Regions from separate parts of the Homo sapiens genome. Here region 2 is linked to region 1. Evidence: fine-mapped expression QTL. Tissue or cell type: whole blood. Region 1 holds a variant in brackets; the other region holds the start of a gene. All regions are shown on one strand. Distances are from middle to middle.

Region 1 (2,679 bases):
GCGTGGTGGTGAACACCTGTAATCCCAGCTACTTGGGAGGCTGAGGCAGGAGAATCGCTTGAACCCGGGAGGTGGAGGTTGCAGGGAGCCAAGATCGCACCACTGCACTCCAGCCTGGGTGAGAGAGCAAGACTCTGTCTCAAGAAAAGAAGAAAAGAAAAAAGAAAAGAAAAGAAAAGAAAAAAAGCAGAGCACAGGATTCCCACGTGACTCAACGATGCCACTCCGGCTACAGACCCCAGAGAACTGAAGGCAGCAGCTGGTGCAGACGAGAGCGCCAGAGTCCACAGCAGCCCTGGTCACGGCCAGCAGGAGGTGGAAGCACCCAAGTGCCGTCGACCCATGAGTGGACAGACACACAAGTTGTGGTCTAGCCACGTGTGGAACAGGGTTCAGCCTGGAAAAGGAAGGAAATCTGACACCCGCTACTGCGTGGATGGACCTCAGGGACGTTATGCTAACTGAGGAATTCCAGACAGAAAGGGACGTGGTGTGTGCTTCCACTTCTGTGCAACTTCTAGAACAGGCCATTCACAAAGACAGACAGAAGATTTGGGGTCACCAGGGACTGGCGGGGGGGCGGAGGGTGGGAGGGATATTGCTTAATGAGTACAGAGTTTCTGTTTGGGATGATGAAATGTTCTGGAACTATTAATAGAGGTGACAGTTGCACAACATCGTGAATGGAGTTGATGCCATTGAATTACACACTTGAAGATGGGTCCGTTGGGGCCGGGCGAGGTGGCTCATGCCTATAATCCCAGCACTTTGGGAGGCTGAGGCAGGTGGATCACCTGAGGTCAGGAGTTCGAGACCAATTTCACCAACATGGTGAAACCCCGCCTCTACTAGAAATACAAAAAATTAGCTGGGGGTGGTGGCGCATGCCTGTAATCCCAGCTGCTTGGGAGGCTGAGGCAGGAGAATCGCTTGAACCTGGGAAGCAGAAGTTGTGGTGAGCCGAGATTGCACCATTGCACTCCAGCCTGGGTGACAGAGTGAGACTCTCCAAAAAAACAAAAAAACCACAACAGAAATTCGTTTTCTTGTGGCTCTAGAGGCCTGAAGCCTGAGGCTTGTATCTACTAAAAATACAAAAATTAGCTGGGTGTGGTGGTGCACGCCTGTAGTCCCAGCTACTCGGGAGGCTGAGGCAGGAGAATCGCTTGAACCCGGGAGGCAGAGGTTGCAATGAGCCGAGATCACACCACTGCACTCTAGCCTGGGTGACAGAGTGAGACTCTGTCTCAAAAAAAAAAAAAAAA[G/AG]GAGGGGGGACCCTGTGCAAGGCCAGGAGGGGCCCACCTGCGTCATCTGGCAACCCATCCCTTCTGAGGGCCAGACCCGTTGGCAGCAGGGATAACAGGCAATGCCTCTGTACTTTGCCTTTTTTCTTTTTAAAAGACAGAGTCTTGCTCTGTTGCTCAAGCTGGAGTACAATGGCACAATCGTGGCTCACTGTAGCCTCAAACTGCCAGGCTCAAGTGATCCTCCCATCTCAGCCTCCCAAGTAGCTGGGACCACAGGCATGTGTCACCACACATAGCTAATGTTTTTATTTTTAGTAGAGACGGGAGTCTTGCTGTGTTGCCCAGGCTGGTCTCAAACTCCTGGGCTCGAGCAATCTTCGCACCTCAGCCTCCCAAAGCGCTGGGATTACAGGCATGAGCCATGGTGCCTGGCCCACTTTGCTTCTCATTCAAAGGTTGGATGGGGAAGGTGAAATCGTCAGGGCCAGGAAGGCTGGGATCAGCTGTGGTCTCTTCCTGCTCCCTCCTCTGCCTGCTCTCGGGGCTGCTAGGCAGAGCTGGCTGTGGTCGGTCAGGCAGCATCCTTCCTCTGGCCTGCATCTTCCACTTTTTCCCACCGCCAGAAACCTGTTGGAGGTGGACCCCGGCGTCGGGCAGGTGCTGGTGGGCGTGGCCTCCCCTGTGGCTGAGAATGAAGCCTTGCCTGGTTCGTGGTTTGGGTTTTGGGGGCCTCAGAGTGTGAGCCTGAGCCAGAACCTGGTCCTCTCACCACTGGCCCTGCAACCCTCCTGGCTGCTGAGTGCACGCATCGCCCTTCAGTATCTGTGCCGGGAATAACATCTGCACACGTGTCACGAGACACACAGGCTCACGGTGGCACTCAGGGATGCCCAGGCATTGCAATGCTAAGCCTCAAGTGACAGCAGTGGTTTGGGGATGGCCCAGAGTCTCCAGTCTCCCCAGCATCTCAGGGTCCCCCAGAAGGCAGGGGCCTTATCAGCCGAGGTTGCAGGGGTGTGCCTGGTGCCTACCACCTCTGCACAGTCGGGTGGGCAGCATGGCTGGCCGCTGTAGAGGGGAGTCTCAGACTGTGGCGACTCCTGGTTGGAGCACGGGTCCCTGGCCATGCCACAAAGCATCTGACCGCTGTCATGAGGCACCTGTTGTGGCCTTTCAGGTTTTACTCTTCGGCTGTTTCCCAGCTAAGCCTCCTTGGGGCAGGCTGCTTCACATCTCTGATCCTCACTTAAGGATCTCGAGTTGAGATCATCCTGGATTACTGTAGGCCCTAAATCCAATGACATGTGTCCTCAGAAGAGAGGGGAGAGACATCAGGGAGGAAGGTCTCTCGAGGACAGCAGAGATCAGAGTGACGCCGCCGCAAGCCAGTGATCACCAAGAACTACCAGCCGCCCCCAGGAGCTGAGACAGT
Region 2 (2,679 bases), 31 kb after region 1:
GGGAAGAGGGGAAGAAGGTGCTGGAACTGGGGAGGAACTGAAAGGGAGGATCTAAGTCTTCGGTAATATTTTGTTCTTAAAGCTCAATAGCGGGTCCATGGTATTTGCTATTTGTGAAAACATACATGTAAATTGCCCAGCCTACCTCGCATGCATAACATTTGATGAAAATTACATAATAAAAAGGAGGTTATGGAATGTGTATGCCATTTCATTTATATAAAAGTAAATGGGCTGGGTGCGGTGGCTCATGCCTGTAATACCAGCACTTTGGGAGGCCGAGGTGGGCGGATCACCTGAGGTCGGGAGTTTGAGGCAAGCCTGGCCACCATGGTGAAACCTGGTCTCTACTAAAAATACAAAAATTAGCCGGGTGTGGTGGCGGGAGCCTGTAATTCCAGCTACTTGGGAGGCTGAGGCATGAGAATAGCTTGAACCTGGGAGGTGGAGGTTGCAGTGAGCCAAGATCACACCACTGCATATACAGCCTGGGCGACAGAGCAAGACTCTGACTGAAGAAAAAAAAAAAAAAGAACGCAGGCATTTGTTATTTTGCCTGCGTATTTAATTAGTCTTTACCCAGGCATTTCCTCCTGTTCTCCTGAAGGTGGGGCACAGCCTTACTTGGTGGCTGCACTGCCAGTGCCTGAGGAACGGGCCTCTGTTCTAAGACACCTGGTCCTGCAGGTGCTGCAGACACGGCCTCCTTTCCTCCGCCGTCCTCCCCCAGCAGCCTGGAATCACTTGCTGCTTCCCAGCCATTCGGTCTACGCGCTCATTCATTAGACTCAGAGTGAGCAGCTAGGTGCCAGGAATCCACAGATCTATCGGGACCCTTCTCTGTTCTCTCCTCTCCCCGGTCTCCATTTCTACCCGAGGAATTCTCATTTGTCCTTCAAGCTCCAGCCTAGAAGCCACCTCCTTCTGGAAGCCCTCCCGGGTTTCCCTGTTCATGTAAGCCTCCACCTCTCCTGTCCCCTCCAGGAATGTCCCTTGCTCTTTTCGTGTGAAAAGGTGAAGTTCAACATTGCCACTGATCTGGGCGCAGTTCGGCAGGGCACCGCCTCCCCTTGGAGCTGTGTGGCCTTAGCGGAGTGGCCGAGCCTCTCTGTGCCCAGCGTTTCATTCCTACCTCCTAGGTGCTAATTCCTCACAACAGACTATTTTTCGGCTGAGGCAGTCAGGGCCCCCGCCCCCGTGCCCTGGCGCCAAGCACTCGCCCCAGAATCGGTCCTGGGAATAAAGGTCAAAAAGGAACCCTTAAACCCGCTCCTCCCCGGAAGGCACAGCGCCTCCCCTTCTCTCCAGCCCGCGACTGCCCATCCAAACCGAGGCCTCGCGGGGCGAGTCCCTTGTCCTCCAGCTCGTTGAACTGGGGCCCCGGGCACAGGTCGGCTGGACCAGCTTGGCGAACCGGACAGCTGCGAGACCCTCAGGTGCCCACCGGCCCAGTTTCCGCCCGCCCCTCCGGGCCCGCCTCTCATTGGCTCGCGTCCCACCAAACCCTACCCCCTGGCCGTCACTTCCGGGCAACGGAGCCCGTGGAAGGCGGAAGTGTGAGCGCCGCGGCGGCAGCTGAGTTGGGCTGAGGTGTCCCTAGCTGGCTCTGCGGCTCTTCCGGGTCTGGGCTCGGAGATTCACAGGCGGCCCGCGAGGCCGAGCGAGGGACGCATGGCCCTGAGGCGGCCGCAGGGCTTGGCGGGGTCCGGAGGTTGACCTCGCCCCCGCAGCCGGCCTTCGAGGCTGCCTCCTCCAGGCAGCCTCTGGGGCCCGCGCCCGCGCCTGCTCAGGCTCCCGTGTTCAGGCTGCCCATCCCCTCCCCACCGGCGTCCCGGACGTTGGGACCTGTGACCGTGGCCTCGGGCTGGGCTTCCAAAGCCGGCCGCAGCCCGGCGACCCCCGAGGCCTCTCGCCCCGGGCCCCTAGACCTCTCACTATGACCGCGGCCGCCGCCTCCAACTGGGGGCTGATCACGAACATCGTGAACAGCATCGTAGGGGTCAGTGTCCTCACCATGCCCTTCTGCTTCAAACAGGTGAGTCCGGTGGGCCCGGAGATCACCGCCCTCGCCTCCCCCGCAGAGGGGGCGTCTGGCTGGGTCGTCCTGGTTAAAGTTCCCGCCGGGGCAGGGCTTCGCTGGGCGGGTGCAGGCGGCCGCGGGCGGGGCGACCCTCTGGGTCCCGGCGCAGTTCCCGTAGAGAATCCGTGGATGAGAAGCGCACGGCGTTGGCCCTGGCAGCCCTTGTCAGCCCGGGCCGGAAAGTTCCCCACACTCAAAAACTCGATACCGAAGCAAAGTGTAACAAAGCAAAATGATCCTCCAGAATCGGAAGGGAACGGTGGGACTCCGTATTTTTACATTTTATCGTGTTTTTAAAAACTCTGACCCAACTGCACCTGTCTTCAGAAGCACACAACTCACCACTCCCAGGCTTCGACACTAGATAGGGACCTTGGTTGCAAGGTGATTAAAAACATCCACCAGGTTATACACCTAAGATCTGCGTTTCACAAAAACCGCACATTTGGCAGGGGGTGGTGGCTCACACCTGTAATCCCAGCACTTTGGGAGGCCGAGGCGAGTGGATCACCTGAGGTCAGGAGTTCGAGAACTGCCTGACCAACATGCTGAAACCCCATCTCTACTGAAAATACAAAAATTAGCCGGGGGTGGTGGCA

Evidence for each region. PIP is the estimated chance that this variant, and not a neighbour inherited with it, causes the effect.
Region 2: it holds the start of SLC38A10, and the variant in region 1 is fine-mapped to the expression of SLC38A10 in whole blood (INTERVAL, PIP 0.97).

What each region holds. Positions count from the first base shown.
Region 1 is chr17:81,325,062-81,327,740 of GRCh38, reverse strand. The region is part of intron 1 of TMEM105 (TMEM105 long non-coding RNA); the gene reads left to right. Among named protein-coding and RNA genes, the nearest start is that of TMEM105, 4.3 kb to the left of the region's middle. The variant G/AG (reference allele first, on the strand shown) is at 1,266.
Region 2 is chr17:81,294,179-81,296,857 of GRCh38, reverse strand. SLC38A10 (solute carrier family 38 member 10) reads left to right here and starts at 1,551. Exons shown (of 16, transcript NM_001037984.3): 1 at 1,551-2,035. The coding sequence starts at 1,937. RefSeq lists an enhancer at 886-975 and silencers at 1,636-1,905, 2,006-2,075.